Linked DNA regions of Homo sapiens: region 2 is linked to region 1. The links come from fine-mapping of genetic effects on plasma protein levels. A gene starts in region 1. The other region holds a variant in brackets. All regions are shown on one strand. Distances are between the middles of the regions.

Region 1 (4,400 bases):
TATCAGAAAGAATTTTTTTAATGGTGGTGATGGTTTCAAGGGTGTATACTAATCCCCCAAATTGAGATGTATACATTAAATATGTACAGGTTTTCATATGTCAATCGTACATCAATAAAGAGGTTGAAAGAAAGGAAAAAAGAAAGAAAGAGAGGGAAAGAGAGAGAGAGAACAATTCTTCCAACCTTGTTCTTTTCAAAGCCAGTCTATCTGAAAGTTATTTTTCTTCTGCTTACTCTTTTCTCATAAGATGTATCCCTTTGTGATCCCAGTCCAAAATGGGGGGAAATTTGCTATAGTAACCAACTTTTACATGTACAGAAAATGGTCTAAATTCCATCAATCAATCTCTATCACAAGGTACCACCATTGAAAGACAGAAGGTCAAGAATGTAGCTCTGAATATTCAGTGCAAGACCCTGAAGATATTATAGATAGGTTATGCTAGGAAAAATCAAGATACCAAAAGGCTTAGAGCAACTTCAGAAAAGTTGTTTGGAAATAATAATTCAAGAAGAGTTCTACTTTGGCTAATAACTTACCCAAACAACTTGCAATAAAACAGACACTGAGAAGTAAGATGAAAACTACAGCAATAACCGAAGGTATCAGCTGGGGATGCATGCCTCCTTCCACTAGGACCAAAAGAAAAATAGAGATTAACCTCCTCTCAGCTACAAGCTAGGAAAGCTAATTCTACCAAGGAGCAATCTAAAAGTGACAGCAAACCAAATATTTCAGATCTAGAGAAGAGCATAAATATTTTCTCCAAATAAATCAATTTTAGAGCTTATTGATGAATAAATAAATAAGAAAGAAAAATGTAAAATTTCTTGGTAATTTTGAAATGAAAAGAATTTTATAAGTAAGATACAAAACCCAAGAGCCATTAGAATAGATAATTTGAGTACATAAAAATTAAAACTTCTATATAACACAAGCAATGTTAGAGTCAAGGAACGTATGAAAGGAAAGTCTTCTCATAATATTAATATCCGCACTGGATAAAGTATTTCAAAATCAACTAGAAAACTGAGCAAAACTCTGAGCAGGAAATTTGCTGAAATTTTAATTTGCTGAAGTTATAAATAGCCACTAATCAAACAAAAATATGCCCAATCAGGGAACTGTAAACGAAAAGATTGTGGTATAACTTTTCACACATCAGATTTTTTAAGTAAATTAAGTACATGCAGTGTTGGCAAGGCTGAGGGGAAATAAGCACTCTTAGTGAGAAAATAAATGCTGCTGCCTGGACTGGAAAATTAGGAATGCCTTTTAGAAGGATCAATTTAGTGGCATTTATCCATTTTTAAATGCATTTCATTTGCCACAATAATTTCAATTACAGGTGTCTATTCTATAGAAATAATTGAGCTTGTTTATGTTAAAAGATATTCATTGCAGTACTTCTCAAAATAGAAAACACATACTGTAATCTAATATTTACATGTATATTATCAATAGTGGAAATTCTAAATTATGGTCCCTTCACACAATGATATTCTGTATAGTAATTAAATAAGCATGTAATCAGTATATATTGATGCAAAAAATCTCTAAGAAATATTGTTACCTAAAAAGGTAATTCAATAGGATCACACTGTGATTACAGTTTGCCATGGTAGGGTGATGAGATAAAGTAAAACTTTAATTTTAATTTAAACATTTCCACACTTGTTCTATATATCTATCAAAAATATTATTTAATATTATCACAATACAAATCCACTGGTGTCACTTAAGTCAAACATAAAATGGGACAGTTAGAGCCTCTGATACAGCATAAGCCTAAATGCTTTTTCTACATCTTCCTTTTCTCTTTTTTCTTTAAAAGAATCTTCTCATATTACTCTCTTTCTTTTCATCTTATTTCTCTTTTATATATTTTATCTCCCCTCTTGGTCCAATATACATTTTATAAAGAAGTTTCTGTTATCCAACTTATTTGACTCTATGTCCTTCCTCTTCACCAACGTCATTTTTATTTCCTTCCACCTCCTTCTCCCCGTCATCATCAACAATCTTTAAAACTACCATCAATTCATATGTTTTAAATTAGTATAATTCCATCTGCTTCTTTGAAATGGAAAGGAGAGAAAGTACTCACGTTTACTTTGAGGTTTTTCTAGCCCCATTGTCTAATTAGTCTCTTGTTCAATGGTCAGGACGGCAAGAATTTGTTCTATTTTTTTTCCCCCAGAGTATATTTCTGTGGATAGGGGAATATATTCAGAAATACTTGAGATCGAACACCAATGTTACATATTGTAGTGAGATTAGAAAGGTACCAGTATAAGAAAGTTAGCTCAAAAGAAGTCTTTTTCAAAGACAGGGGTTTCCTTTGATACATTCCGGGAGATGAGGCGAAAAAAAAAAAAAAAGGAAATTGAGAAAGCAATACCAAACAACAGTTAGTAGAAACCCACAAGTATGTTGAGATCACTAGATCAGTGTGAAATGTGGAATTTCTCAATTTGTTTTTTTTTTCATTTAGACAAAAAATTTAGCAACGCCCTAAAAGAAATAATTGTTATGCCCAATAAAAATTTAGTAAATGTCCCCTCTTTTTAAATTCTTTTTGTGAATATTATATTTTCAAAGGCAGTTATATTCTTGGGGTGAGTTCTATACTAAAAAGTTCTCTGGACTGAATAAAAAGTTGAGTCTAAGAGAGCAAAAGACAATGTGAACAATGAACAAAAACTTTTAAAGTATACCTTGTGTGTACATGGCATGTGAAGACACAGCAACCTTTGTTTTCGAGTTGAGGAAGAGATGATAGAGCAGTTAATTAAATCCCAAGAACTTTCTAGGTGAGCAAAAAGAGTTGTGTTAAGGCAAAGACAAAGAAAATGTAAGATTCTGTGATAAAGACACCATCAGGGTCCCTGACTTCATTTATAGCACTGTTAGGGAGTGAATGTCTGTATCTCCTCAAAATTCATTGGTGGAAGCACTACCCTCCAACGTAATGGCATTTGGAGGTCAAAAGTTTGGGAGGTAATTAGGTTTAATATGAGGTCATGAGAATGGGGTCCTCATGATGGAATTATAAGAAGAGACCCGGCTAACGAGCTGTTTACTTCCTGCGGGTGCTCAGGCTGTGGCCATCTTCCTTGCTGTTGCTCTTCTCATTGGAGAAGATGGCCCTGGAGACGGTGCTGAAGGACCTGTGGCATCTGTGGGCCTGTTTGCTGTGTTCACTGGTCAAGGTACTATAGACCAGTTTGAATATGATGGTTGTGACTATTGAGATGCATATCTACAGATGAAGGGTAACTGAGAGATGCTATATGGCTGCACCAGCTCCTCCTTTGATGGAATCATTGCGATGATGAGTCCAGAGGACAGCTGGGTCTCCAACTGGCAGCGAGTCAATAACTTTAAGCCAGGTGTATATGCGGTGTCAACCACTGGTCGCTTGCCCTAAGGAATCGTGCGGGAGCTGAAAAGTTGAGGAGTGGCCTACAAATCCAAAGACACAGCTATAAAGACCAGACGCAGGGCTGCCAGCGTCTTTGCTCTCCACCTCCTGCCTCTGCTTATTTTTTGTTCTGGAACTAAATGGGCAGAGCTTCAAATGCTTCCTACCCTCCAATTCAGACTCAGCCAACTGTTGAGAGAACAGCACATCATTTTATCATTTTACCTTATTTGGACTTCAGGTGGGGGTGGGAGGGATTTGGGTTGGTGGATTAACAGATGGAATTGAGGAGAGAGTAGGATGCTGACTTTCCTACCTGTAGCCCAAGGCTGCGCCTTGCTCATGAAGAGGTCTAGGTCAAATGTCAATAAATAGAAACCTCTAGAAAGTTCTTAAGGCCATGACACCTGCCTCGCTTCCCTCTTCCTTTCTCTTAGGCACACAGTAAGAGCTTATTTGCCCTATAAGATACCTTCCCAGAGCAGCAGAGGCCCTTCCACTCCCTCTTGACTGTCTCAGCCTCCAGGATTGCAGCCTTTGTAGTGTGCTTCCTTGCTTCCTATCAGAAGGTGCTGTCCAGAGGCTCAGTAACCCCATCAGCTTGGTGGCCCTGGTGTCTTGTGCTTGTATCCTTCTGCCCTTGAGACCTGGCACAGCAGTATCCCTTGAAGAAATCCTGAGGCTTTGTCGTGCTCCTTGCTCCTTGACCATGTTTAATAATTCTTTTCCCCCTCTGCTCGTCAGTTTTCTTCTCTTTACTGCTCTTCCTATATCTTAGGCCAGTCTCACACACTCACATTTTACATTTTCCTTACTGGAGACCCTTGGGCCTTGGCCGACTGCTGGGTCCTAGTCTGCCTTGTTTGTGCCCCTGTAGGAGGCAGGTCCTTTTCTCCGCCGGCCCAGTAGGGGACCTTGGGTAACATCCCATTTTTCGGCCAAAGTGAGTTATTTGTTTTAGGATAAAAAATTT
Region 2 (4,400 bases), 28 kb before region 1:
AATGATAGACTGGATTAAGAAAATGTGGCACATATACACCATGGAATACTATGCAGCCATAAAAAATGATGAGTTCATGTCCTTTGTAGGCACATGGATGAAGCTGGAAACCATCATTCTCAGCAAACTATCGCAAGAACAAAAAACCAAACACCGCATGTTCTCACTCATAGGTGGGAATTGAACAATGAGAACACTTGGACCCAGGAAGGGGAACATCACACTCTGGGGACTGTTGTGGGGTGGGGGGAGGGGGGAGGGATAGCATTAGGAGATATACCTAATGCTAAATGACGAGTTAATGGGTGCAGCACACCAGCATGGCACATGTATGCATATGTAACAAACCTGCACGTTGTGCACACGTACCCTAAAGCTTAAAGTGTAATAAAAGATAAATAAAAATAAATAAAAATTAATCCCCCCCCCCAAAAAAGAAATCATTAAGCATGGTCAACTTTAGAAGAATGCACTAAGGATAGTTAAGAAGGCTTTTACTTGTCACATGCTTTTCATAGTATTAATCATAAAACATATTACTCGTATAATTTGGGGAAAATCAATGAAACAAAAGATATAAAAACATTTTGGCTGGAAAAAATATTAATTTATTGATTTCTGTTTAATTGTATATTGATAAAAATTAACATACAATTGTTTAGTAATATTGATGGTTGCTGGTTGATTGTAATTAATAAAAGATGGACTGTGGTAATTATGTTCATCATTTTATAATTCATATAGCTCATCCACTAGATAGTTTCTCTTTTTTTACTGATCAAAAGCTATTTGCTGAGAATACACATATTAAATATGGGTATATTCTATAATATACACATATATAATTTAAAGATATTTTTAAAATTGTATTACTATAAAACAGAGAATGCAGAGAAAATTGACCAGTACCTTGAAATAATAAAAAGTCCCTTTGAGAACAAGAATATTTTCTCACACATGGAAAATTCGTGAGTCACTGGATGTGGGGATTTACCAAGTCATGTACATCATACTTATGCCTCCTGACTCGTGAACTTAAATAAACTGAGACCAGTGTGATCTTATTCTTAAGTATCTTTAAGTAAGGAGAAGGCACATATCTAACTATTCTTCCAGAGAAGCATTAATTCTTTTTTTTTTTTTTTTTTGAGACAGAGTCTCACTCTATCGCCCAGGCTGGAGTGCAGTGGTGCAATTTTGGCTCACTGCAACCTCTGCCTCCCAGGATCAAGCTATTCTCCTGTCTCAGCCTCTCAAGTATCTGGAATTACAGATGCGTGCCACCACACTTGGCTAATTTTTGTATTTTTAGTAGAGGTGGGGTTTCACCATGTTGGCCAGGCTGGTCTCAAACTCCTGACCTCAAATGATCCACCCACCTTGGCCTCCCAAAGTGTTGGAATTACAGGCATGAGCCACTGCTCCCGGCCCAGAGAACCATTAAATTCTAATATCTAATTGAAATTGCTTTTTCTGACCTTCAAATACATTTCTCCTACTGTAGGCTGTAACATAGAACTAAAATCCCCAAATAATTGAGAACAGGAGAATTAAACTGCCTGCTGGGTCTCTGAGACTTCAGAAGCTGCGTTATGTTGTGAAAAACTAAGCTGAGTTTCAAAGTGGTCTAATCACATGAGGCTGTCCTGCTGAGGGGGACTCTAGTAGTCAGCCTAGTAGTAGCAGCCTAGTAGTCAGCATAAGATAAGAGGGACATAAATCCACAACATTAGAATATTCAAGAGCTGCAAATGAAGAAGAAAGAAAAACCATAAAAGATGAAAAAGAGGACGGGCGCGGTGGCTCACGCCTGTAATCTCAGGACTTTGGGAGGCTGAGGCGGGCGGATCACGAGGTCAGGAAATTGAAACCATCCTGACGACCACAGTGAAACCCCGTCTCTGCTAAAAATACAAAAAATTAGCCAGGCGTGGTGGCGAGCGCCTGTAGTCCCAGCTACTCGGGAGGCTGAGGCAGGAGAATGGCTTGAACCCGGGAGGCGGAGCTTGCAGTGAGCGGAGATCATGCCACTGCACTCCAGCCTGGACGACAGAGCGAGACTCTGTCTCAAAAAAAAAAAAAAAAAAAAAGATGAAAAAATTCAGGTTGCCATGTCCTAAATACATACACTATATGCCCAGCTTTGTGCTATGTTGTCTAAGTCTTCTTTTCAGTTACCAAATGTGTGGATGGTACAGATCCAAAGTGAAATTCAGAGTGCAGAGGTGAGCTCCATATTGTCAAGGAAAAACTGGGGGATGAGTTATGCCTTGAAGAAACTAGAGACATTTGGTCCAACGAAACGAAACAACATTTAAAAAAAAAACTCTCCTGTTTCCCCATGGCTAGCCTATTTGTGTTGATGCTTACCATTTCATAATTTCCTCATTTTGTTGTTACATGGAGTGAAGAGAACTGACATGCTGTCCAATAAACTTCCTTGTCCTCCTTATGCAAGAAAGGAAATCCTGACTTAATGCGTAGCCACAGAACAAGTTAATATTCTACATCTATCGGAGCTGAACTTCCTAAAAGACAAAGTGTTTATCTTTCAAGATTCATTCTCCCTGAATCTTACCAACAAAACACTCCTGAGGAGAAAGAAAGAGAGGGAGGGAGAGAAAAAGAGAGAGAGAGAA[A/G]CAAAAAACCAAAGAGAGAGAAAAAATGAATTCATCTAAATCATCTGAAACACAATGCACAGGTAAAATCTGCAACTCTTCCTTTCCTTCCATAGATCTCTTTTTGGAACAAGTGATAAATATGGTGAAAGACAGGACAATAGAAAAGTATTCACTGAAGTTAAAAAAAAAAGTGGGGGGACAGAGGAAGAGAGAGAGAGAGATTTAAAGACTATTTCTTATACCAGAAAGCCTGCTGGCCTCTAGCTAAGGGAGAGCTATCAGTTTCCACCCTTTCTGCAATACATTGTGTCCCTTTTGGCAAGTCACTTCACTTCTCTGGAACTCTCTTTGTCTGTAAAATGTTTAATGGGAGGAAGAGAGGAACTATTAGATGACTGTTAACATTTTACCTAATTTACAAAGCGCTTGAAAAGTGAGACACAGAAAAAAAAAAAAGATCAGGAGAAGGACAAGAAAAGCAAAGACGAGAAAAGGGAAAAGAAAGAAAAAGAAAGAAGGGGGGCCTTAGAAAATACTGAAAAAAATTTAACTGAGAGACTTAGAAAGGAAAAATTGTATATCTGAGTTCATGAGTCAGAGTCTTACTCCAGGGGTGCTAAACGTGTGGTCCTCAGACCAGCAGCAGCAGTAGCCCCTGGGAACTTGTTGGTTCCATACAAACTCTACTGAGTTGCTAACTCTGGGGGTAAGGGTCAGCAATCTGTGTTTCCATAAACCCTCCAAGTGATTCTGAAGCATGCTGAAATTTGGGAATTACTCAGTACAAACAATGGAAGTAGAAGGAAATAAGTAAGGATGAATAAGAATCTCTTCTATCTCTTTTGTACCTTGCTTAGGGAAGATTGATCATGTTTGTGTCTTTCTTTCTACAGAGAGAGGATGCTTCTCTTCCCAAATGTTCTTATGGACTGTTGCTGGGATCCCCATCCTATTTCTCAGTGCCTGTTTCATCACCAGATGTGTTGGTGGGTTCTGAAGGTCAAATTCAATTTAATTCTTCCTGGTGCATATTAGGAGAAAACTCTTCCATGCTGCCTGTAGACTCTCTTTGCCCTCAAAGGGTCTTTCTATTTCACCCTTTTTTTTTTCCCTATTAATCTCTAGGTTATTTCTCAAACCAGAAACCTCAACAAGCAGGGAACTGTTTCTGAATTTTAATCACCTGTGACTTACTTTTCATGATAGACATTTTTCACTTCCTTGGCAGTCCTGAATCCTCCTCTTTCAGCCTCTATCATTAGTGTAACCTTCTCTAGGAGAGTCTGCCTTAGAGCTTGAACTACTGGTCGGCACCAGAGATATGACTAATTACTTTTGGAAGGAAGGGTAGAGAGAGTTGGACTTGGCATAAGAGGTAGTGCAAACATATCTATTTTCTCTGGGTCGTAAGAAAAAGCAGATTGTAAGAAAAAACATGATAATTATTGGCACTTTTGTTATAAATACAAAACTGAGGGAACTGACATTTTTAACCGAAATAAGACTAACAAACATTATGCCCTTTCTTTTACAGTGACATTTCGCATCTTTCAAACCTGTGATGAGAAAAAGTTTCAGCTACCTGAGAATTTCACAGAGCTCTCCTGCTACAATTATGGATCAGGTATAATAGTCCCAAAGGTGAACATCAAAATTTACAAAGCAACATTTTCTGGCTTCTAGATTGACTTTGGGACAGGTGAGATATAGCTGGATTAGGTCTTATTTTTCAAAAGCAAAATGTAAAATCCTAGAAATTTGGTGATGCAATTAGCATTG

Direction of the effects. Alleles are on the strand shown, and positions count from the first base shown. The strength of an association depends on the size of the effect and on how common the allele is.
In carriers of allele A in region 2, the plasma level of the protein whose gene starts at base 2,368 in region 1 tends to be higher than with G alone (strong association).

The links. PIP is the chance, under the fine-mapping model, that this variant and not a neighbour inherited with it causes the effect. Protein levels are from antibody-based Olink assays in UK Biobank. Linkage for the fine-mapping came from a reference panel and not from the study's own genotypes, which makes the PIPs less certain.
Region 2: its variant is fine-mapped to the plasma level of the CLEC4D protein (UK Biobank, PIP above 0.99).

Annotation. Positions count from the first base shown.
Region 1 is chr12:8,511,471-8,515,870 of GRCh38, reverse strand. CLEC4D (C-type lectin domain family 4 member D) reads right to left here and starts at 2,368. Exons shown (of 6, transcript NM_080387.5): 1 at 2,111-2,368; 2 at 543-635. The coding sequence starts at 2,138. It also overlaps the pseudogene SUPT4H1P2.
Region 2 is chr12:8,539,062-8,543,461 of GRCh38, reverse strand. CLEC4E (C-type lectin domain family 4 member E) reads left to right here and starts at 2,557. Exons shown (of 6, transcript NM_014358.4): 1 at 2,557-2,701; 2 at 3,515-3,607; 3 at 4,156-4,245. The coding sequence starts at 2,665. The variant A/G (reference allele first, on the strand shown) is at 2,640.